Linked DNA regions of Homo sapiens. The gene in region 5 interacts genetically with the main gene of each other region. Each region holds a gene or a part of one and is shown on either strand. Other genes may lie near its edges.

Evidence for each region.
Region 1: changes in POLE2 (region 5) and TIMELESS together harm fitness more than expected from each alone (negative genetic interaction), as found in Homo sapiens cells (one large-scale study listed by BioGRID).
Region 2: changes in POLE2 (region 5) and FBXW7 together harm fitness more than expected from each alone (negative genetic interaction), as found in Homo sapiens cells (one large-scale study listed by BioGRID).
Region 3: changes in POLE2 (region 5) and UBA2 together harm fitness more than expected from each alone (negative genetic interaction), as found in Homo sapiens cells (one large-scale study listed by BioGRID).
Region 4: changes in POLE2 (region 5) and SSB together harm fitness more than expected from each alone (negative genetic interaction), as found in Homo sapiens cells (one large-scale study listed by BioGRID).
Region 6: changes in POLE2 (region 5) and LEO1 together harm fitness more than expected from each alone (negative genetic interaction), as found in Homo sapiens cells (one large-scale study listed by BioGRID).
Region 7: changes in POLE2 (region 5) and HUS1 together harm fitness more than expected from each alone (negative genetic interaction), as found in Homo sapiens cells (one large-scale study listed by BioGRID).

The regions. Positions count from the first base shown.
Region 1 is NC_000012.12:56,439,427-56,442,926, reverse strand, and holds part of TIMELESS (protein timeless homolog), read left to right. Parts: intron 1-3,500. UniProt on the Homo sapiens protein: Plays an important role in the control of DNA replication, maintenance of replication fork stability, maintenance of genome stability throughout normal DNA replication, DNA repair and in the regulation of the circadian clock.
Region 2 is NC_000004.12:152,529,593-152,533,092, forward strand, and holds part of FBXW7 (F-box/WD repeat-containing protein 7), read right to left. Parts: intron 1,259-3,500; exon of another isoform or gene 1-1,258. UniProt on the Homo sapiens protein: Substrate recognition component of a SCF (SKP1-CUL1-F-box protein) E3 ubiquitin-protein ligase complex which mediates the ubiquitination and subsequent proteasomal degradation of target proteins.
Region 3 is NC_000019.10:34,438,381-34,441,880, reverse strand, and holds part of UBA2 (SUMO-activating enzyme subunit 2), read right to left. Parts: intron 3,237-3,500; coding exon 3,115-3,236; intron 1-3,114. UniProt on the Homo sapiens protein: The heterodimer acts as an E1 ligase for SUMO1, SUMO2, SUMO3, and probably SUMO4. It mediates ATP-dependent activation of SUMO proteins followed by formation of a thioester bond between a SUMO protein and a conserved active site cysteine residue on UBA2/SAE2.
Region 4 is NC_000002.12:169,808,871-169,812,564, reverse strand, and holds the end of SSB (lupus La protein), read right to left. Parts: coding exon 3,663-3,694; intron 2,283-3,662; coding exon 2,142-2,282; intron 1,708-2,141; coding exon 1,521-1,707; intron 1,383-1,520; coding exon 1,242-1,382; intron 898-1,241; coding exon 809-897; 3' UTR 746-808; coding exon of another isoform or gene 707-745; 3' UTR 501-706; downstream 1-500. Other genes in the region: rRNA N(6)-adenosine-methyltransferase METTL5, read left to right, coding at 59-108, 707-745. UniProt on the Homo sapiens protein: Binds to the 3' poly(U) terminus of nascent RNA polymerase III transcripts, protecting them from exonuclease digestion and facilitating their folding and maturation.
Region 5 is NC_000014.9:49,653,715-49,657,214, forward strand, and holds part of POLE2 (DNA polymerase epsilon subunit 2), read right to left. Parts: intron 2,130-3,500; coding exon 1,957-2,129; intron 1,381-1,956; coding exon 1,291-1,380; intron 1,125-1,290; coding exon 1,070-1,124; intron 501-1,069; coding exon 441-500; intron 354-440; coding exon 276-353; intron 1-275. UniProt on the Homo sapiens protein: Accessory component of the DNA polymerase epsilon complex. Participates in DNA repair and in chromosomal DNA replication.
Region 6 is NC_000015.10:51,951,279-51,954,778, forward strand, and holds part of LEO1 (RNA polymerase-associated protein LEO1), read right to left. Parts: intron 3,298-3,500; coding exon 3,203-3,297; intron 1,986-3,202; coding exon 1,851-1,985; intron 702-1,850; coding exon 566-701; intron 1-565. UniProt on the Homo sapiens protein: Component of the PAF1 complex (PAF1C) which has multiple functions during transcription by RNA polymerase II and is implicated in regulation of development and maintenance of embryonic stem cell pluripotency.
Region 7 is NC_000007.14:47,973,116-47,976,615, forward strand, and holds part of HUS1 (checkpoint protein HUS1), read right to left. Parts: intron 2,573-3,500; coding exon 2,498-2,572; intron 1-2,497. UniProt on the Homo sapiens protein: Component of the 9-1-1 cell-cycle checkpoint response complex that plays a major role in DNA repair. The 9-1-1 complex is recruited to DNA lesion upon damage by the RAD17-replication factor C (RFC) clamp loader complex.

The DNA.
Region 1 (3,500 bases), on a different chromosome or scaffold from region 5:
ATTGGGGAAGTGATAAATGTCCATGAAATCTTCATAATTTATGTTCACAGATTGCAGTAAAGACAGGCGTAATAAATTATGAAAGTATTAATTTGGGGAACTAATAAATGTCCATGAAATCTTCACAATTTATGTTCTTCTGCTGTGGCTTCAGCCGGTCTCTCCATTCGGGGTCCCTGACTTCCCGCAACATCATCTATCTTATATCACTATAGAGGGTCGTTTGGTTTTCTCCAGCACATCTGGGCCTAGATTTGAATTGAAGTCTAGGAAGCAGATGGTTGCATTGATCTGAGGTTATGTATGGTCTTTTGCAGGGTGAGTGCACTGAAAGGAAAAGAGATAGAGGCCACACGGGAAAATGGCCAAACTGATGTATATAGTGATACAGTAGTAGGATATGTGTGACCCTGGTTTGATCATTTTGTTTTCTAGCTCAGAAATCTTCAGTGGCTCCCTGGCTTAGGTTCTAAATCTTTGAACTGATGGACAAAGATGAGGTTTTTCCCATAAAGCTGGTTCCAGCTGCTTTTCCATTGCTTTCCTGTTGGACTCATCTATTCATAATGGCTCCCTCTTTGGTTTTGCACTGGCAGTTCTCTGCTTAAATGCCCATCCTATTCCCAGCTGCCTTAATCCTATGCAGCTTTCAAAGGCCCAGTTCTAATCATGCTTCCTCAGACAAAACCTCCTTGACCACTTTAACCTGAAAAGAGTACTAGTTTTTTAGTTTTTTTCAGTATCACGTATTTAGAGCTTGTACTGCCTTATCTTTTACATTGTTTGTTCTATATTTGTGGATTTTATTTCTGCAACTACATTTCTTTTTTTTTTTTTTTTTTTGAGACGGAGTCTCACTCTGTCGCCCAGGCTGGAGTGCAGTGGCACGATCTCAACTCACTGTAACCTCCACCTCCCTGGTTCAAGTGATTCTCCTGCCTCAGCCTCCCGAGGAGCTGGGATTACAGGCACCCGCCACCACACCTGACTAATTTTTTGTTAGTTTTAGTAGAGACGGGGTTTCATCATGTTGGCCAGACTAGTCATGAACTCCTGACTTTGTGATCCACCCGCCTTGGCTTCCCAAAGTGCTGGGATTACAGGCGTGAGCCACCGCGCCTGGCCTCTGCATCTACATTTCTTAAATTTCTTTAGCGCTACCATTGCACCTGCACGCTATCTTTTGCCAGGAAGGTTCTCCCTAAGCATTTAGTAACTGACTATAGAGTCTGACAGATGGAGAGGAAATTAATATTTGGGGCGGGGGAGGGGTTCTGTTTGTTTTGTTTATTTGTCTTTTGAGACAGGGTCTCACTCTGTTACCCAGGCTGGAGTGCAGTGGCACAATTTCAGCTCGTTGCAACTTCAACCTCCTGGGCTCAAGTGATCCTCCTGCCTTAGCCTCCTGGGTAGCTGGGACTAAAGGTGTACATCAGCATGCCCGGCTGATTTTTGTGTTTTATTTTTTGTGGAGACTGGGCTTCGCTATGTTGCCCAGGCTGGTCTCAAACTCCTGGACTCAAGTGATCCTCCCACCTCAACCTCCCAAAGTATTAGTATTACAGGCGTGAGCCACCATGTCCAGCCAGGGATTCTTACTTTGTGCTCAGCACTGGGTAGAGTGCTTAATATCACTGCTTCTCAAACTGTCTTGGTAAAGGACCAGGTAGATTTTTCCCTCAAGCTGTTGCAGATCAGTAGTGTTCTAAAAGCACTTCTGTAAAATAAAATTACTAGAAAAATAACATTTAAAAAGACATAGAGAATACAGGCTTTTTATTATTATCATCATTAGATTCAACAAACATTGGCTGGGTGCAGTGGCTCATGCCCGTAATCCCAGCACTTTGGGAGGCCGAGGTGGGTGGATCACTTGAGGCCAGGAGTTCAGCAGCCTAGGCAACATGGCGAAACCCCATCTCAACTACAAAACACAAAAAAATTAGCCTGGCATGGTGGCACAGGCCTGTAATCCCAGCTACTTGGGAGGCTGAGGCACGATAATAGTTTGAACCCGGGAGGCAGAGGTTACAGTGAGCCAAGATCACGCCACTGCATTCCAGCCTGGGTGACAGAGGGAGACCCTGTCTCAAAACAAAACTGTAAACTGCCTGTCAAATTGCCCTAAGATGTTCTAAGTGCTAATGCTTTCTTTCTGTACTTACCTTGATGCAGACTGCTAATAGTTTGTGGATTGGCAGTGGTCTGAAGACCAAGGTTTGAGTAGCATTGCTTTACATGATCTCATTTACACTTCCCTAATATCTTGTGAGGGTGGGTATTATTATTATTTCCTCAGTATACTGATAAGGAAAGAGATTTAGTTAAGCCACCTGCTCAAGTTCACCAGTTTAGTACCAGACAGAATTGGAATTCAAGTGCTAGATGCCATTTTGTTCATACTACTGGGTCTCAAAGAGGATCCTTGGAGCAGAGTTGGTTTGGGGCAGGTAGAGTGTTTTGTTTCGTCTTCAAAAAGTAAGTTTATTTGGTCGGGCGCAGTGGCTCATGCCTGGTATCCCAGCACTTTGGGAGGCCCAGGTGGGCAGATCATGAGGTCAGGAGTTTGAGACCAGCCTGGCCAATATGGTGAAACCCCATCTCTACTAAAAATACAAAAATTAGCTGGGCATGGTGGCGCGTGCCTGTAGTCCCAGCTACTTGGGAAGCTGAGGCAGAAGAGTTGCTTGAATCCAGGAGGTGGCGGTTGCAGTGAGCTGAGATCGTGCCACTGCACTCCAGCCTGGGCGACAGAGCAAGACTCTGTCTCAAAAAAAAAAAAAAAAAAAAAAAGGTTAATTTGAATTGCAAATACATTTAATATTTTATCTGTTGTTTTCTTTTGGTTCTTGCATTTTAATGCCTCCAAGTATTGATTTCAGATGCATATTGCTTCATCTGAACTGCTTGATACTTAGTTGAGTAGGAAAAGTAACTAACATCCCTTTTAAATGTCCAGTTCCATTGGCTCTGTGGTGTTTGACAAAGTTCTCACCTGGTCTATGATGAAATGTGAAAATAAAGTCAATGTAATGAATTTTTTCATGAAGTCATATTTATTAAATTTGAAGGACAGTATTTTATCCTGAGATTTTTGTCTGTAGTTTTTTTGGTGTTAAAATGGTAGAAACAGAATGCGTATAGTAATTGTGTGGAGTGTTGTTTATAACGGCTGTTTGAGATATAATTCATATACTGTAAAATTCACCCTTTTAAAGTGTACAATTCAGGCTAGGTGTGGTGGTTCACACCTGTAATCTCAGCACTTTGGGAGGCCAAGGCAGGAGGATTGCTTGAGGCCAGTCAGGAGTTTGAGACCAGTGTGGGCAACATAGGGAGGTACCAGCTCTACACAAATTTAAAAATTAGCCAGATGTGGTATTGAATGCCTGTGGTCCCAGCTGCTTGGGAGGCTGAGGTGGGAGGATTGCTTGGGCCAAGGAGTTGAGGCTATAGCGAGTCATGATTGATCTGTACTCCAACCTGGGCTGGTCAACAGA
Region 2 (3,500 bases), on a different chromosome or scaffold from region 5:
ATATTAACTGTAATGTAAAATTGCACAAAGTGAATTACACTTTCTGAACAACACATGTGAGAAAGATTCACTCTTAAAAATATAGCAATGCTGGCCAGGTGTGGTGGCTCACGCCTGCAATCCCAGCACTGAGGGAGGTCGAGGTAGATGGATTACCTGAGCTCAGGAGTTAAGAGACCAGCCTGGGCAACATGATGCATGGCCTTTGGGGTTACCTGGTGGGTGCTAAAACACACACACATATACCCTCGAGGCTCTCTAATTCCCTATCAATCCAAAAGTTGTTACCCATCTCTATCAAAAATACAAAAAAATTAGTCGGGCATGGTGGCGCATGCCTGTGATCCCAGCCACTCGAGAGGCTGAGGTAGGAGGATGACTTGAGCCCAGGAGGTGGAGGTTGCAGTGAGCTGAGATCACACCACAGCACTCCAGCCTGGGTGACAGAATGAGACCCCGTCACAAAAAAAAAAAAAATACACACACACACACACACACACACACACACACGTGTATATATATACGTGTACATATATATATATACGTATATATATGTATATACATCAAAGCTTTTTAAAGTACACATTTAAATGATTTAAGTGATTTGTTAATATACACTAGTACTTGAAATTAACAAAACAAAAATTGCGATGTGTAATTCTACACACTGAATTAGCCACTGCAAGAGATTAAGACTTTAATAGATAGCAGTATCAAACTTTAATGCTCTTATAATTTGACTCATATTATTCAAACCAACCATAGACACTTCTAATTTTACACACGAAGTAAATGCTTTACATTTATTTTCAGAAGGTTTCAAAAGTATGCCCACAAGCTTCTTTACAGATACTTTTGGCCATGATACAAAGCCAGTATATCACTAAATGCCAACTGTGGTTATCTTTAGATAAGAAATGCAGGTAGTCCCTACTTTTTAGCTGCATCCCTTTAAAGATGGTATCACCCCGACCCTCAATCCATAGTTTTCATCACCATGAAGGCAAAAGTATTTTGTACAGTAGAGTATGTGCTTTATGCAGAATCATTTTAAATGAACTCAGAGAAAAACATCTCATCTAGAAAACAAAGACCACCAAAAATAGCCAGTCCTGGCTTTGTAGTGTAATAAAGCTCATACTGTTTGTTGGTGGATTTGGCAGTTGTCTATACCAGGAGTCCAAAAACTTCGGCCTATGGGCCAATTGGAGCACGGCAACATTCATTCACTTCCTTGTTGTCTACAGCTGCTTTCACACTATAAGAACAGAATTGAAAGTTGTGACAGATCATGTGGCCTGTAAAACCTAAAATATTTACTAACTGGCCCTTTACAAAAATAGTTTGCCAACTCTTTCTCTACACAATGAGATGTCAGAAGCACCAGAAGACTTCTCCAAGAACCATCTCCAAAGTACAATGAAATGAGCCTATGCATGGCCTTTGGGGTCATCTGGTGGGTGCTAAAACACACACACACACACAAACATATACCCTCAAGGCTCTCTAATTCCCTATCAATCCAAAAGTTGCCAAGGCAAAGTACATGAAGTTACCACTCTTCCCACTGTCCTCACTAGTAAATAACATTAACTATAAGTGGCTGCCTTCTAAAATTCATCTGAACATGGCTTCGACTGCACAAAAAATGTTGTGGAAAGTGGAGGATGACAAGAGAAGGCCTCCATATGGCATATAATCCAATCCCTATATTTTCACCCTAGAATCACCTTAGACCTATCTCCTTGTTGAAACATCTCTTCCCCAGAGTTTCTGCCATTTGAATAATCACTGTTAAGAAGTCAGAGAAGCTACTAGGAAGGTGCAGAATTCCAACTAAGGAACACAAAAAAGTGTGAATATATATTTCCTTCCTCACAATCCTTAATCCTGTTAAAGTCAATACTAAATGCAAGCCGCAAAAATGTCTACATTTTTTTAAATGCCAAGTTGCTTTTTTTTAATAAAAAGTTTAAAAGGAAAAAAAAAAAAAAAGCATGTTCAGCACTACTGTGCCTACACAGGGATATCCCCTCCATTGTATGGGACACAAAGACACACACCAACTGTGAACAAGGGAAGCAGCCTTCTCTGTCAGCTATTTTTGGCCTCACTTCGTCATATCAAGACCAAACGTAGGATAATAATGCACAGTGAACTTTAAAACATGAATTTGAGGAAACAAATCTGTCCTTCTATTTATAAATTCCTTAACAATGAAATTATTATTAAGTATACTCTTCTGAACTTAATCTCAAGGGACCTATATACCCTATTTAAAAAAAAAAAAAAATTTTAGCTTGTTTCAAAAATACAGAATAATATACCCTGGGACTAAACTGGTGGCCATGTTTAAAGCCTGCTCATTCCTTTTTAACTTCAACTCTTATCCACTTCTAAAACATCTATTTTAGGTAGTGTCTCATTCATTCAGATTTTCCCCCTAACTAAAAATACCCACTTTTCAGCTCTTCACTTTCCATCAGTACTCTGGGAAACCTAAATACTTTGAAAATAATTCCAACTTTACATTTTCAGTATATTACCTGCTAAACTATTTTGCTGTTTTGAAACTGCACCAGTATCCAATTGTTGCCCTAAAATTTCACATCCAAAGCAAAGTCTACTGTCCCATTTCTAAACTCTTTTTTGTAAGAAGCCACTTTCAACACACTAAGCATCTTCTTTTTCACTCCTCCTTCTGTATAGCCCTGGATAGCCACGATATAATAAAAATGTTGGTTCCCTAGAAAAACAAAATCCTAATCCAGGCATACAGCTTTTACCTAAAATGTAATTTCTCCCCAGTCATCTGAAATTACTCTCAGGAACACTCTTCTCAGTTGCTTCTTTGAACTGTAATCATGTGTCTACACAAACACAACTGACCCTAACACTACTCAACAACCTCTATCTGTATTCCCTTCAAACCAGCTTCGTAATTTTATCTGTCCCTTATGCCTTTCAATTCCAAAAGTCTTAAATATTGTGTCTCCACTTGCTCTTTTCTTCCTAAAAGAAACCTTCCCAGATTTGGCTTCAATACTTCAATTAGTTCTATATGTACACGTCCAAAAGCAACATTTCCCTAGTGAAAAATGTAAAAATATATTCACATCTATAAGTTGACAATATCTAACATCCAGTGCGGTCTTAGATAAATATTGGTCTATCCCCCCTCTCCTATAGCTTTGTGCAATTTGTGTTTGATTGTCTCCACCACCTACAAGTAAAAGCATCTCAAAGGCAGGGACCCCAAAAACTTTGTCATTTCTACCCAAACGTGCAATAAAACATTACCATAATTTTTTGGCAGGACGCGGTGTCTCAACGCCTGTAATCCCAGCACTTTGGGAGGCCGAGGTGGGCAGATCATTTGAGGTCAGGAGTTCTAGACCAGCCTGACCCACATGGTGAAACCCCATCTCTACTAAAAATACAAAAAAAATTAGCCAGGCGTGGTAGCACATGCCTGTAGTCCCAGCTATTTGGGAGGCTGA
Region 3 (3,500 bases), on a different chromosome or scaffold from region 5:
AGCATGATCTCCATTCACTTCAACCTCCGCCTCCCAGGTTCAAGCGGCTCTCATGGCTCAGCCTCCCGAGTAGGTGGGACTACAGGCGTGTGCCACCACACCCCACTAATTTTTGTATTTTTAGTAGAGACAGGGTTTCGCCATGTTGCCCAGGCAGTTCTCAAACTCCTGGCCTCAAGTGATTCACCCACCTCAGCCTCCCAAAGAAAAAAAATGTTTGCCAAATAAATAAAGCTTCCAAGTGTAGTTTTTGTGAACATTTATCAAGTTGACACTGTTATGTATACTTTTCTGAGTGCAAAAATTAAAGACAATGTTTGCTGAAGGTTTCTACAAAATACCCTTTATCGGGTTGAGAACATTCTCATTTTAGTAAGAAGTTTTTTTATTTTTAATTTTATCTATTTATTTATTTTTTATTTTTTTGAGACGGAGTATCGCTCTGTCGCCCAGGCTGGAGTGCAGTGGTGCAATCTCAGCTCACTGCAACCTCCGCCTCCCGGGTTCACGCCATTCTCCTGCCTCAGCCTCCTGAGCAGCTGGGACTACAGGCACCCACCACCACATCCGGCTAATTTTTTTTATTTGTAGTAGAGATGGGGTTTCACCGTGTTAGCCAGGATGGTCTCGATCTCCTGACCTCGTGATCCGCTCGCCTCAGCCTCCCAAAGTGCTGGGATTACAGGCGTGAGCCACCTCGCCCGGCCTAGTAAGTTTTTATTCTGTTTTAGTAGAAACTTTCATCATGAAAGGCCATTTGCTAAATTTTACCAAATGCTTTCTCTGTATCTATGAAAACTATATAGTTTATCTTTAATTTCCTAATGAGTGAATGACATTTACAGATTTTCTAGTTTAAACCATGCTTGTATTCCTGAATAGACACGTGGTCAAGACACACTTTTTATTTTATATGATTCTAGATCCATATGGTAATTTTTTTTTTTTTTTTTTTGAGATGGAGTCTTGCTCTGTTGCCCAGGCTGGAGCGCAGCAGAGCGATCTCGGCTCACTGCAGCCTCCACCTCCCGGGTTCAAGCAATTCTCCTGCCTCAGCCTCCCAAGTAGCTGGGATTATAGGCGCCCACCACCATGTCCGGCTAATTTTGTATTTTTAATAGAGACAGGATTTCGCCATATTGGCCAAGTTGGTCTTGAACTCCTGACCTCAGGTGATCCACCCGCTTCAGCTTCCAAGTGCTGAGATTACAGGCATGATACACTGCGCCCATTCCCAGGATATGCTAATATTTTACATAGGATTTTTGCATCTATTATTTAGGTGTGAGACTGACTAGCAATTGTTTCTTATGCCATAATGGCCTTGACAGGTTTTGCTATCAAAGACATTGCTAGCCTAATAACACAAGCTAAGTAGTATTCCCTTTTAAAAATTTCTCAGGGAGAGTTTAGCTAATATTACAATATACTCCTTGCAAGTTTTGTGAAATGAATCTGTAAAAATAACATAGGTTCGGTGCATTATTTAGAATAATTTAAACTACTTACATTGCTCTAAGGTATACTGCTAAATTCAGGCATTCTATTTTCCTTTCATTTTTTTTTTTTTTTTGAAACATCATCTCATGCTGTCCCCCAGGCTGGAGTGCAGTGGCCCAATCTCCACCCACTGGGTTCAAGTGATTCTCATGGCTCAGTCTCCCAAGTAGCTGGGACTACAGATGCCCACCACCACGCCTGGTTAATTTTTGTATTTATAGTAGAGACGGGGTTTCGCCATGTTGGCCAGGCTGTTCTCAAACTCCTGGCCTCAAGTGACCCACCCACCTCAGCCTCCCAAAGTGCTGGGATTGCAGGCCTGAGCCACCGCACTGGGCACTTAGTAAGTTTTTAAAAATGTATTTACCCAGATCATTTAAATTTTTTATGTACTACCATGGTCTTATTATCATCCCTTTTTTTTCTTATAGCCTATTTAATCTCTGCTATCTGTATTCCCCGTTTAGTTCTCACTTACTCCTCTTCTATTTTGTAATCAAATGTGCTCTTACTTCAATTAATATCCTTCCTTCTCATTCTTTTTTTCTTTCTTTCTTCATTTTAAGACAGGATCTCACTATCACCCAGGCTGGAGTGCAGTGGCACTATCTCGGTTCACTGCAGCCTCAACCTCCCAGGCTCAACTGATCCTCCTACCTCGGCCTCCCAAGTAGCTGGGAGTACAGGTACACCTGGCTCATTTTTCTATTTTTTGTAGAGACACGGTTTTGCCATGTTTCCCAGGCTGGTCTCAAACTCCTGGGCTCAAGGGATCCTCCCATCTCACCCTCCCACAGTGCTGGGATTAGAGGCATGAGCCACCATGCCCACACCATTCTCATTTCTTAAAGTGTATTCTGTGGTTCATTTTCTAACTTAAATTGGATTCTTAGTAAAGATTTAGTAATTAATGTTCAGCCTTTCTTCATGTATGTAAATCTGTAACTTTTTGCCAACCACCACATTCAATACATTCTGGTATAGCATTTTCATCATTATCAGTACAGAGTATTTTTAACTTCCATTGTGATTTCTTTTATAACCAATGGGTTATTTGTAAGTAAATGTTCACATTTCCAAATATAAAGATTTTTATCGCTTAGTTACATGGCTGTCTCCAATATAAGACTAAGTTTCCTGAACAGTCATGGCCACATTTTTTTTTTTTTTTTTTGAGACAAATTCTCACTCTGTTGCCAAGCTGGAGTGCAGTGGCGCGATCTCGGCTCACTCCAACCTCCACCTCCTGGGTTCAAGCAATTCTCTTGCCTCAGCCTCCCGAGTAGCTGGGATTACAGGCACTCGCCATCACGGCCAACTAATTTTTGTATTTTTAGTAGAGATGTGTTTCACCATGCTGGCCACGCTGGTCTCAAACTCCTGCGCTCAGGTGATCCGACCACCTCAGTTTCCCAAAGTGCCGGGATTACAGGTGTGAGCCACCGCACCCGGCCAGCTACATTTAACCTAAGAAATACTGCAAGAAAGCTACTAAAGCATCCCTTCACCATATTTAAACATCCTGAGTTCAATCTCTTCAAGGTAATTAAATAAAAATGACTCCATTTTCCATCATCAGTACCGAAAAGCATGCCAAGAAATATACACTCTTACTTGAACAAGTACTTTGCCCAAACGATGCAATGTATAGGTTCTGAAGGTGTGTTACGAATTGTACAGCCAGGAAAGGTTCTCTGGGTCGGCTTAGGATGACACTCATAACACTCGGTCACACCCTATGAAGTCAGGATATGAGAAAAATTTACTCCATGATGGCAGTTTCTCAACATTATAAGGTAATATAAACACTTCATTCATCTATATTCCAACTACGTTTTACGTTGTCAAGGAAATTTTAAAATATTAGTGACTCCAAAATGCTTACTTTATGATAAACTAACACAAAAGCTAACTGAATCTACCAGTCATAGCTAAGGCTGTGCCAGGACGCCGACTCCTGGTTCAGTGAACATGACTTACAAGCCCAAATAAAAATTACT
Region 4 (3,694 bases), on a different chromosome or scaffold from region 5:
CAAGGGTGGTAAACGCTTGGAAATACAATTTTATCCTTAGGTGGCTTTTGTTTTACAGAACTTCGATATGACCTGCCAGCATCATACAAGTTTCACAAAAAGAAATCAGTAAGTCTCTTGATTTTGGCTGGTCTACATTCGGTATTGAAAAGCTTTCTGGGCCGGATGTGGTGGTTCATGCCTGTAATCCCAGCTACTCGGGAGGCTGAGGCAAGAGAATCGCTTGAACTCAGGAGGCAGAGGTTGCAGTGAGCTGAGATTGCCCCACTGAACTCCAGCCTGCGCGATAAGAGTGAGACTCAGTCTCGAAAAAGAAAAAAAAAGGAAAGCTTTGTGACAAGTAATTATTTCTAGTGTTACCAACTTTCCTGTGTAAATATACAAAGCCAGCCTAGGAGACACCATAAATGGCCTGTGGGAAAGGCCCATCGTCAATAGCTAATATTCTAGTTCTTTCCTAAATGCTTTGGGTACAAAAAGAAAAAAAAAATCAAAAACTGTTTTTGCTCTTTTCATATAGTATATATTTTATTAGTTAGTTTGTACTAATACATTCTCATATTACAAAGGCAATTTAATGGAAGAATCTTCCTTTTGATATTTGAATCATCTGAAATAACACAAACAGAACAATACATTCAAAGAAATCTCATTTGCATAACAAAAAGACAAGTTAAACAACAAAAAAATTTTTCCTTTCTCACAGGTGGACATTGAAGTGGACCTAATTCGGTTTTCCTTTTAAAAGCCCCGCAAACAAAAGTCGTTTAAAACCTATTTAAAATGAATAAAAAATTGGTTTACTAAACTACTGGTCTCCAGCACCATTTTCTGTTTTCTGTTGTTTGGATGCAGGTTCTTCTTTGTCTGTTTCTTCTCTTGCTCTTTTCACAGGTCCTATAACGTAACAATTAATTTTTGTTAAATTCAACGTAAGTACTGCTCTAGTTTAATACTGAGCACAATTACTAATAATGATACTGTTGAAAAAGATGCAACAACTTCCTTGCACCAATGAGAAAAGGCTTTTCTCTTAGTACAGACCTGACCTCTAGATTCATCTTCCAAATATCCTGTCCCTGACTTATACAACAGCATAACCGAGGTAAATCGTTAATAATCCAAGAATGGCACTTATCCAGGAGTTGAAAAGCCAAATCCCTATTCTCTCTGGCAAATCATTTATTTATGGAAGTAGAAATTTTCTCATGAAACTACCAAAGGACTTAAAAAAAACTTACCAGTTGCACCATTTTCATCATGTTCATCATGTTCATCATCACTAGCAAATTTCGTTTTCTTGCCCTGAAACTGTACTTTTCCTTTACCAGACCCAGGCTGGGCAGCTTTATTACCCTTTCCTTTTCCTTTAAATCTACGACCTGTAGAGACACAATTGAGCACTCTGTAAAGAACTTTTTTTAAGTCTCTTGTCAATGTTTTTGAACACTGATTAAAGTTTTTGCTCAAGTAAATGGGTTCAACAACCAAACTGTTAAAGAAAAATCAGAATAAATGACCTTTTGACTTCCATTTGTTTAGGGATTCTTGTTGGTCTTCTATTATTTTCTTCAGTGCTTCTTTTTCCACCTCTCCTTCTAGTACTTCCCAAGTCACTTCTTTGTTCCTTAATTGTAGGTTACCATTATTTGCATCTTTGGCTTTACCCAATGCTTCCTTGGCTTTTTCTTTAAATAGAATTATCCCCTATACCAGAGACAGAAAACAAAAGCCATACCCTTGGTTTTTAGTCCCACAATTAATTTCTTTGTCCAAAGTAATTTTTTCTACCCTGCAAACCTTCCATGTCTTTACCAGTTTGAATGAATTTTACTGAACAGTAGAAAAGGAATGCTACAGAAGTAAAACTGCAATCATCAGTATGAACAGTTATTCATAGTATAATTCAGAAACTATCAGACATCACATATAGTGACAATAACAACAAAGTAAATGATCAAGTAGAAACTAATTTAGTATAATTCAGAAAATATCAGACATCACATCTAGTGGCAATAACAAATGATCAAGTAGAAACTAATTTAATAAACACAATTTTTAAAATTACTTTCTACTAATTTTGTCTAAGTTTCTACAGATTTTCAAACTGATTGCTAAAAAGGATAGGGATGTATCCAAACCTCTTTTGCTCCTCTGACGAAGTCTATCCATTTTATTTCACCATGATTTGAGAAAAGTATGTGTAAATCTTCTCTACAGGTCTGATCATCTAAATCACCCGAAAATTTCAGCAAGCATCCAATCTTTTCTTCTAGAGATTTCTATAAAAATATACAAAGTGATCAAAAAGTTTCTTAAAAGCAACAACAGACCAGAAATGACTCACACCACCTTATAGCTATACAAGAAAAAGACTAGAAACCAAAATGCTATTTTAAAGTAGTTTCTTCCGCCGGGGCAGCAAGAGCGAAACTCCATCTCAAAAAATAATAATAATAATAAATAAATAAAGTAGTTTCATAGTGTTGGTGTTTTCCTTTGTCATCCTTTATTCCAAAATGGCTTTCAATATTATTTGATCTCTTATACAACTGGTATTTAATTAGTTATAAACTACATAAATCTGGCTATTAAACTATCTTGGAAAATAATTCTAGGCAGTATTTATCATACTTTAAAAAATTTTTAGGCCGGGCGCAGTGGCTGACACCTGTAATCCCAGCACTTTGGGAGGCCGAGGCAGGCGGATCACCAGGTCAAGAGATCGAGAGCATCCTGGCTAACATGGTGAAACCCCGTCTCTGCTAAAAAAAAATACAAAAAATTAGCCGGACGTGGTGGCAGGCGCCTGTAGTCCCAGCTACTCGGGAGGCTGAGGCAGAAGAATGGCATGAATCTGGGAGGTGGAGCTTGCAGTGAGCCGAGATCGCGCCACTGCACTCCAGCCTGGGCAACAGTGAGACTCGGTCTCAAAAAAAGAAAAAAAAAAATTTTATAGTCATTATTTTCCCCAAATAAAAATTTTTACCTGTAACTTTCTAAATGGAAATACACATCAGTATCTTATTAAGTCAAAAATAAAAGTCATGTTAGTATTAACCTATGATTAGAATCTTTAGAAGTTATAGGACATTTTCTCATAAAAATAAGTTCTAGGCATAAATGAACTTTTTCTGAATATTTCAAAATATATTTTCCTGTGTTTTATTATATTTTTTATTTTTAAACAGGGTCTCACTCTGTCACCCAGGCTGGACTGCAGTGGCATGATCTTGGTTCACTGCAACCTCCGCCTCCTGGGTTCAAGTGATTCTCCTGCCTCAGCCTCCCACATAGCTGGGATTACAGGCATGCACCACCACGCCTGGCTAATTTTTGTATTTTTAGTCAAGATGGGGTTTCACCATATTGGCCAGGCTGGTCTCGAACTCCGTGCCTCAACTGATCTGCCCGCCTCGGCCTTCCAAAGTGCTGGGATTACAGGCGTGGGCCACTGCACCCGGCCTTTTCCATATTTTAGAACATATTTCCTATCCTTAGTTTTCTCTTTTCCCTCAATATAATACCTGATGTATTACTTAATGCAATAACAACTATAGATAGCTTTGCTTACGTATTTTCTTGAAAAAGTCCTCAGACTTAAAAGCTATTCATTTAACTTCGAATTACAGATGTACTAGATAGCAGTAATATATACTTACCATTTCAGCATCTTCTTCTAACTTTTGTTTTG
Region 5 (3,500 bases):
TTCTCAGCTCACAGCAACCTCTCCACCTACCAGGCTCAAGTGATCCTCCCATCTCAGCCTCTTCATAGAACCACAGGCGCGTGCCACCAAGCCCAGCTAATTTTTGTACTTTTTGTAGAGATGGGTTTCACTGTGTTGCCAAAGCTGGTCTCGGAACTCCAAGCAACCTGCCTGCCTCGGCCTCCCAAAGTGCTGAGATTACAGACATGAGCCACCACACCTGGCTAATTTTTAAATGAAAGGAAAAATGTATAACACAAAATACTAATTCTTACCTGCAAGGATTAGTAGTAAAAACTGAAAATGGTACCCTTTGTCTGAATTCATTAGTGATGCTTTCAGCAAGTGGTGGCCTATAAAAACAATTTATGTGATATAGTTTATCTTTTTAAGTTTTACAAAATTTTCTACACTGTTGCAAAAATCTGAACAAAACTTACCTTGGTAAGATGGAACCAAATCCAGGATCCTCTGGACCAGGTACAAACACAAAACGACTACTGTAGCAAAATTCAACACAATTCATTTAAAAATATTATTGTAACACTATCCAATAGCTTAAAAGCAAGTTATTCCCTTTGTTTTCTCTTTAAAATTAAAAAACATTTAAATTTCATGCATTATAATAAATGAACTATTAAGTCTCCAGACCAACACTGTCTAGTAATGTCATGATAGAAAAGTTCTATATCTGCACTGCCCAATTGAACACTTGAATTGTGGCTAGCATAGCTGATGGACTGAATTTTATATTTAAATTTAATTAAACTTAGATTTAAAGAGACATGTGGCCAGTGACTATCATATCGGAGAGTGAAGCTCTAGACTCTTAAGAGTAATGCCACGAAGAAATTCCAAGTATGGCTGAAATTACCTCTATCCCTTTCAATACTTTTCATTATAAACCTCTAGTACAATGTGAGGATAACTTTATCTCTTAGTTCTTTTAATTTTCTCAACTTTATCTTTCTTCCTTAGTTTTGTAATAATTGCTGATATAACAAAATTCATTTTTTGTTTTTTTTTTAAGTAAAACGGTGAAAAAATATATAGTGCTAGAGATCATTACCTTTGGTGAATATCTGGGTATTCACATATTATATCTGCCAAAGTTTTTAGGGAATCTAAAATTTTAAAAAGGTATTGAATTAAATTTGCATATAATGCCATAAAATTATATTTGATTAGATACAATCCTGTATATTCTTAATTAAAATATTATGGATAATTTCTTATTACTTTAGTTTATATGACTATAGAAACACTTCTTATTAAATAGATCGTTAATACCTTTCAAAGCTTGAACTTGATTTTTTCCATATGGTGCAGATGAAAAATTACCACACAGAATAAAGCAGGTTGGAGGTGCTGGTGAATAACCTAAACAATAAAAGAGTAAATGAACAATACTTTTCTAGTCTACAAATCAAGTTAAAAACCCTTTAACCATGACTTTCTAATAATAAAAATTTATTTTAATTAAAATAACATTTTAATAACTTATTAAAATAATACTAATAACAGTAGCCATTCATTGAGCACTTACTATAGGCCAGGCCTGCATTGGCTTAATTACTCCTCAGAACATCCATAAAATCTGAGACTTAGGTTAAGTAACCTGCCCAGGGTAATAGGCTTGCACTTAAACCCAGTTTGTTTTTGTTTTTGTTTAGAGATGGGGTCTCACTATGTTGTCCAGCTGGTCTTGAACTTCAGGACTAATTCTTACTTATCATGACTATAAACACACACACACACACACACACACACACACACAGGTTTTTTTCTTAATGTAAAAATTTAAGTCTTTAAAATGAAATCTAATTTAAATTATCTCATTGCTAACTCTGTTTTTTTTTAAATAGAATACTCAAAAAGATAAATAGAATACTCAAAAAGTTTTAAAACATGAACCCTTAAAAGAGTTCAAGAAAGAAGAAAAAAAATAAGACCTACCAGCAAACATTATGCGAAGTTTTTCCAATACTTCCACCTGGTCCAACCAAACATCAGATAAAAACACAAACATAGCATCTTTATTCTCCTCTTCTAGCTGTTTTAGTTTTGCAGAAGTCTTCACAGATGTATTAGAAGGACCTCCAAAAAAATTAATATTTCCATAGTATGCCCTAGATAATTATAACATAATTATCTTCTATATACCACTAGAGATATTTTTCTAATAGTTGTATACATTTAGCTTCTTTGTATCTAATGAAGTTATTTTCCAGTGTAAAAAGGTACTCTTTGTAACACTTTAAAAGTACAAAGGTTATCTAAATATTCTAAAACAAGATAAGCAATATGGAAGCAGTAAATAAAATAATAGGCTATATCTGTGTCTTAAAACTGACTAAACGGCCGGGCACGGTGGCTCACGCCTGTAATCCCAGTACTTTGGGAGGCCGAGGCGGGCGGATCACGAGGTCAGGAGATCGAGACCATCCTGGCTAACACAGTGAAACCCCATCTCTACTAACAATACAAAAAATTAGCCGGGCGACGTGGCGGGCGCCTGTAGTCCCAGCTACTCTGGAGGATGAGACAGGAGAATGGCGTGAACCCCGGGGGGCGGAGCCTGCAGTGAGCCGAGATTGCGCCACTGCACTCCAACCTGGGCGACAGTGAGACTCTTGTCTCAAAAAAAAAAAAAAAAAACTGACTAAAGCAAACATTAAAATAATAATTTCCTATGTCACTGAAAGTAGAAGAAATGAGTACACCATTTGAACAATATCTCATAGAAACCTCAAAATATGTGCTAACCATCTGCCCAAGTAATTCTACTTCTGGAATGGCTAATCCTAAGGAATTAAAGATATATACAAAGACTAGCCTATATCCAAGAACTGTGAAAAAATTATTCAACGGTTCCTTCAAAGCTTGGTTTTATTCAATGCTCACCAAGCAAGGGTCAGTAGGAAAGTGGGTAATCTACACACTCCCAGCCTCCACCACTCTTGCCCACTCTACACTGACATCCTGCAGTTCCCAGCTTAAATGCAAATACCCCATAGGCCTCCTCTGAGGATCCCAAAAGAGGTTAGATTTTCCCATTATACACTCTCATAGGAACCTGTACTTCTCCTTTGCAGATCTTATCAAATTTGTAATCAGGCCAGGGTGGCTCACACCTATAATCCCAGCACTTTGGGAGGCCGAGGTGGGGGGATTGCTTGAGGTCAGGAGTTCAAAACCAGCCTGACCAACATGGTGAAATCCACCCCATCTCTATTAAAAATGTGAAAATTAGCCGGGCATGGCAGCAGGCACCTATAATTCCAGCTACTCGGGAGGCTGAGGCAGGAGAATCGCTTGAACCTAGGAGATGGAGGTTGTAGTAAGCCGAGATCATGCCACTGCACTCCAGCTTGGGCAACAAAGCAAGATTTTGCCTCAAAAAAAAAAAAAAAAATTGTAGTCAGCCAATTGTAATTGGGCGATTGTTTCATGTCTGTCTCCCCACCTAGTGGCAATACAGTATGTGCTCAAAACATATT
Region 6 (3,500 bases), on a different chromosome or scaffold from region 5:
CAGGAAAGGCCAATAGCCAATATGAGCACATGCTCTATCGATTAGGTACAATGCCCCAAATAAACTTGTGCCTAATTAACAGCTGGGTCAAATTTGAAAATATACCAGGTAGAATGTTACAAATTGACCTTAAAAACTCATAAGCTCGTCTTATTCTTTACCAGAGTCTACTTTAGGCACTCTCTCATTCAAACTCCTGGTCTATTCTCTATTTTACACTACTCTCTAGTATCTCCACTGACTTCTGACATGGATTCTAAACCACACATAGATGACTTAATGATCTTTGAACTTATACATGAAAATTCAGATATTTCAATCACCGGTTTGTTGCTGAACTCTCAGGGCCTGGTGAAGAGAGAACCTGAGCCCTGTTTCTGTTTTACTATCATTGCCACGTCACCAATTGTTTGGCAAATGCTGAGGAAATGAATCCAGCTCCCTATTCATGTCAGTTGGAAGAGGAAAAGGTAGGCCAATAAGAGATGACGAACAAGCATTTTGGGAAATACTTGCCTAATATACCAAAGAATCCCAGGATAACGCTTAGGCTTAGCAAACATACCTTAATCATTTCTGTGCGTTGGCATTCAGGATCACGACCAGCCATTGGCAAGATTCTAATCTTCTGTGTCTTTGAACACCTATCTGCAAGTGACAGAGTCATCTTTCTATGTGTGGCACTGTCCGTAGAGTGAGGTCTGCCAGGAAATAAACGAAGAGCATATCACTGTTTACCAAATACATTTGTGAGCCAGTGATACCCACGTCACAGAAGTAAGAGCCCAGTGACCATTTCCTAGTCACCTGAAAAAATAGGCAGAGACACTCGACTGAATATACCAAGGTGGAAGATTGTGAGTTTTCTTCATTCTGTGGCTCACTGAGACATTCTTATTCCACAAATGAAAAACAGAAGGTTGGAGTAAAAAAGATTGTATGGCATGATCACCTTCTAGAAGCAATAAATGGATACGCTCAAGCAACATTAATTAGATACTACAGGTTGGTGCAAAAGTAATTGCGGTTTTTGCCATTACTTTTAATTAATATTAATATATTAATATTAATATAATTATCCTATTTTATAGATTTAGGAAACTGAGGCAAAAAGAGGTTAAGAAAGTGGCACAAGGTCACACAAGTAGAAATGGAATTCAAATATGAGTCTAACTGATTCCAAAGCCTGTATGTTAACCTTTATAATTTCAAAAAGCTAAATCATAACCAACATTATTGTGCCCCCTCTAAAGATAAGCATTACCCAAAGAGGATGGTCTGCTTATAATCAAGAAAGAGAAGCATGAACATCTCAGTGCAGCACATACTCAGTCTAGAGAAGGAAAGTGCCCTCACCAGCTGAGTATTCCTGTCCTCTTGGGGGACACACCTCTGCAGTGGTATTAGATGCCGGGGCCTACGGCACTGAGATGGCCCGTCTCACACTGACCAACTTGCTGGCTTTCCTTCGATTGCATGCACAACAACAACCTCTAGTTATTAGTCTCCCAGGTCAATTTTACTAAAAACAAAGGACACACTGGCTAGCAGACACACGTATTTTAGGCCTCTTGGCAGTTATAATAACCACTGGAATTAAATACATTGACATTCTGGTTTACCTAACAGTCTCTTGTAAGTCTGGTTAGCATGACCTGGTTCCCTAAGAAACAGCAACTTTTAGTGTATTTGACAAAATAACCTTTGAACCTTCAGAACTATGCACAAGATCTTGGTTCTTGCTGAATCATACCGTGGGGTTACATCAATCAGGTGGCAGGCATTACAGAAACATCTATGTTTCACTGCTTTTACCATAAGAAATAATACATAATAATAATAACAGTTACCTGAAGGTGAGTTTCGTTTTAAAGACTGCTTGTCCCTGTAGACCAGTACCTTGTCTTATAAAAAGATGATTGTGGTCGCCCTGCAGTGGGGCTTTGTACACATCAAACACTTCATTGCCTAAATGCAGGGACATGCTGGAAAGAGAAACATTTCATCTATTAAAGTCATAAAGCTTTCACTCTACCATCTTACTTCACTTAAAGGTGATTCAGGCTGGGCACAGTGGCCCACATGTGTAATCCCAGCACTTTGGGACACCAAGGCAGGTGGATCACGAGGTCAGGAGTTTGAGACAAGGCTGGTCAACATGGTGAAACCCCATCTCTGGTAAAAATACAAAAATCAGCTAGGCATGGAGGCACACCCCTGTAGTCCCAGCCTTCGGGAGGCTGAGACAGGATAACTGCTTGAACCCGGGAAGTGGAGGTTGCAGTGAGCCAAGATCGTGCCACTGCACTCCAGCCTGGGCGACAGGACAAGACTCCATCTCAAGGAAAAAAAAAAACAAAACAAAACAGGTGATTCAACTGCTGCTCTCTCTTTTTACACAGAATTTGGAAGGAACGAAAATAAGAAGTCATAATGAGAAAAACTGATGGACTACAAAGAACTAACACATGCTGGGATGTTTACCAGGCTCTACTACATTCCCAGTGAAGGGCAATTTTTTTAAAATGTCAATTTGTGGCTGGGCACGGTGGTTGACGCCTGTAATCCCAGCACTTGGGAGATGGGAGGATCGCTTGAGCCCAGGAGTTCAAGACCAGCCTAAGCAACATATGGAGAACTGTGTCTATGAAATTTTTTCTTTTTTTTTTTTTTGAGACGGCATCTAGTTCTGTTGCCCAGGCTGGAGTGCAGTGGCGCGATCTCGGCTTACTGCAACCTCCGCCTCCTGGGTTCAAGGAATTCTCTGCCTCAGCCTCCTGAGTAGCTGGGATTACAGGCGTCCGCCATCACACCCAGCTAATTTTTAGTAAAGATGGGGTTTCACCATCTTGGCCAGGCTGGTCTTGAACTCCTGACCTCGTGATCCACCCACCTCGGCCTCCCAAAGTGCTGGGATTACAGGCGTGAGCCACCGTGCCTGGCTCTTTTTTTTTTTTAATAATCCATGCAGGGTGGTGCACACCAAGTAGTCCCAGCTACTTGGGAGATGGGAGGATCACTTAGGACTAGGAGTCTGAGGCTCCACTGAGCTGTTATCATGTCATTACACTCCAACATGGGCAACAGAGTGAGACCCCATTTCTAAAACTAATAATAAATTTAAAACTAAAAAGTATTTCAAAACTTGATCCCTCTGACCCGTTCTGGGTATGTCAATACCCTTCAGGCGTTTTGTGCTCACCTTCCATCTGACCACTTGACTATCCGAGCATTGCTTTCTTTAATTTCATTTCCTTCTTCATCTCGGCGTATCCTCCATCTTATAGTATTTTCTACCTGTTTCACAACACAAGTACTTTAGAAAATTATAGTTTAAATGACTCTATGCATCTTGTTTTTCCTCAAGAGGCACATAATCACAGAATAAGCATACAGAGGTGACAGATGTATGTGTGGCAGGAGAATGAACAACACTGAAACCCTCTTTAATCACCTAGAGAGGTTGGATAAATTAAAAGCAGGGAAAAAAATATGCTTAA
Region 7 (3,500 bases), on a different chromosome or scaffold from region 5:
TCCCCTTTGCCTTCTGTCATGACTGTAAGTTTCCTGAGGCCTCCTCAGCTATACAGGACTGTGAGTCAATTAAACCTCTTTTGTTTATAAATTACCTGGTCTCAGGTAATATCTTTTTAGCAGCGTGAAAACGGAGTAATACAGGCACACATCACAAAGTACTGCTACATGATGTGGTCTGAAGACAGGCAGCATCGACATCTCCCAGGAGCTGGTCAGAAACAGAGCCTCAGGCTCCAGCTCAGACCTCCCAAATCAGAACCTGCACTTTAACCAGATTCCAGGGGATTCACACGCATGGTAGAACTTAGAAGCAATGTCTTAGAACATGATGTCAATTCCCTCCAGTTCTTGCTTCTTTTTCTGCTCCTGCATGAGTCACATACAACCCACCCCATCAGTCACACCTCGCATTTAATGAAAGGAAGTAACTGGGCATCTCTAATGGGAAGGTGGGCATTTTTAGTGTGTTAAGTCTACCCATTTTCCTTAATTCTACTGCCTGTAATATTCAGATACAGAATTCTGGATACCCAGGAAGACCTCATTATGTACTTTGCTACAGTAACTTGATAACTTTCCATTTAGTAATTCCAGATCGTAGTAGCCTCTCCACAATATTTCTATGTTTTTTTAAACTCCAAAAAAGAGAAAACAAAACACCTCTGATGATTCTAAGCTACCCTTCTACCTCTCTACCTTGCTGACTCATTTTCATTGAACAGAAAGAACAAACAAATGCCATCCTTCAATTAACAGCCCTGTCTTTTCTCTCCTGGGCCTCTCTGAATTTCTCTGGAAGTCCCCAGGGTATCCCCAGATGAAGCCAGCCTGACAACTGGATCAGCATCACTGCAGTCACAGGTGACACCAACGTCAGCACAGTGCACACTGCTTCATGGAAAACAGATTTTATAGATTAAGTTATGAAGGAAAAGCTTTGAGTTACCCAGGTCCAATGACAGCATTGCTCTTAGTGTGCAGAACTCTAGAAAAAAACAGTCAAATGTACATTTTCTAGGCTTCAAAATACTTTTGTGATTTCAAAGACCTCTTGAAGCTAAATTTTGTTCCAGATCCATGCAACACTTATTGCTGCCTACTGAGTGGCAATCCCACACTGGGCAGCTGGGACACAAAGATGATTAAGATGGGGTTTCCTTTATCAAGAAGCTGGTGGTTCACGAGACCTTCAGAGATCTTAGCAGGTGATTTACCATGTACACTGGACAGCTCAGCTCCATGGAGGAGCTTCCAGAGGGGTGGTGGGGAAAGGTCTGTGATGAAGCATGAGAATGGCTAAGTGCCTTCCAGGGAGATGGAGAGAAGAAGCCATGTGTCAAATGGCAAAGAAACTGAACAAAAAAGAAGAGGCATTGTGGGGGAATACCAGAACCCAGCCTCGTTCTGCAGGGAGGGTGTGGCAATACAACAGAGATGTGGCTATAAAGGTGGCCTGGTACACTGTCAAGATCAAAAGTTTATGCTTCATCAGGTGGACAGTGGTTTTTAGAAGATTCAGGGACATAACCAAGGGTGTTTTTTGGAGCAGGATAGGAGGGAGCAGGGGGAGGAGGGAGGGGCAGTGAGTGAAGGAAGAATTCACAATAACCCCAGGTATGAATGAGGATAACCTACACATTTCCCACCACTGTCACACACTGTAACATTTCGAGCCATGTGGCCATAGGAGACTTCCACAAAATAAACAGAAAATAAACAGAAATATAAAAGTGCCCCCTAGCTTGGTGTGAGGTGTGCTTGGAATAAAGGCTGCTATGGTGTGGCATATCTTTGTCCCTGGCTCACTGAAAGACACTTGGCACGCAGACAGGAAACTCCAAACTCACTGTCAGTCATATCAGTGACTCACAGAAAAATACGGGCACGTTAGCAGGTAAAAGATACAATGTTCCAGCCGGGCGCGGTGGCTCACGCCTGTAATCCCAGTACTTTGGGAGGCCTAGGCGGGCGGACCACGAGGTCAGGAGATCGAGACCATCCTGGCTAACACGGTGAAACCCCGTCTGTACTAAAAATACGAAACAAAAAATTAGCCAGGCATGGTGGCAGGCGCCTGTAGTCCCAGCTACTCGGGAGGCTGAGGTGGGAGAATGGCATGAACCCGGGAGGCGGAGCTTACAGTGAGGTGAGATGGCGCCATTGCACTCCAGCCTGGGCGACAGAGTGAGACTCTGTCTCAAAAAAAAAAAAAAAAAAGAAAGATACAATGTTTCATACAAAATATAAGAGGAAAAACAGGCAGATTAAAGGCAAATATAAAAGCTTTCCTCAAAGAATTAGAGTTGAAAAGTATTGGAATAGGTTTCTAAATCCAACTAGCAATCTGCAGGTTCTCAGCACCAGGCCAGGTCCTCATAAGTGGGAACTCGGTTAGGAGGTGCCCACCTGCATGGACTGCTGCAGGGTGAGCTGGAGAACCCACGCCGTCCCACCAAATACTTCAGAGTTCTTTTCTAAAGAAGTTGTGACTTACAAGGTGATTGCTGATGTTTTTCATTTTTTCCACAACACTCTTCATAGTCTTCAAGACTGGTAAATAAATACTAACCTACAAAACCAATGAGAAAAAAGCACAAGTATTAAAAATATTAATATACTCTAGTAATGACAAGGGCCCCATAACTAACTCTAGAACACATGCATGCTCAAAAACTATGGGATACTATTTTACAATTTTCTGAATAAAGTTCTTTTAAAAATATAAAAAGAAAACCAATTCTATTTCACTAACTCAAGGATGCTCAAGCAAAATTAAAGAATGGAATGCCTGCCTCTGGTTACCTCAGCAACCATGTCCCTGTGGGCATTCTTTTGGCTCAAGAAGGAATAGGGTACTTCAGCTGAGATGCCCCTATATTGGTCCAGGGGGAATATAACTCAGGCAATCAGCAGGAGGCCCTCCTCTAAGGGACATTTACACCTATGATTCAAGGGCCTTTTCCATGCTCTGTACAAAAACATGGCAGACAGTCACTGCATCACATCTGAGACTGTTACCAAGAGTGCTCTATAAAACACAGGCTTTTTCAAAATCAGTGTAGGTGCCATCTAGTAAAAGTCAAGTAATTATTTTACCCAGCATATTTCTGTACTTTCTTCTTAAACAAATTGTGAGCAAGAGGAAATGGGCCCTTTGGCATCATCTTTACTTTCAGGAGCTCTAGGGTTAACCATCGGCATGACCGTTACCCCATGTTAGCCCTAAGCCATGAAATTCTTCTCTTCTTGGCTTTCGTGCACATCCAGATATCGCTCCTGACCGGCTGAGGAAAAGATCAAGTCCTGTGAAACCCAAATTGGTGTCTAAGGCCAAGAATACTAATAAATACTAATTGTCCTCCAAAAGTATCATTTGTGTTTTAAGTGATGTTACTGAGCGAGACATTTTCTACATATAGGATGGCATGACATTTCTATCATATGCAACATTTTTAAGATGCTTTATGTAAATAACAAAAGGCAAATAATCTAATGTT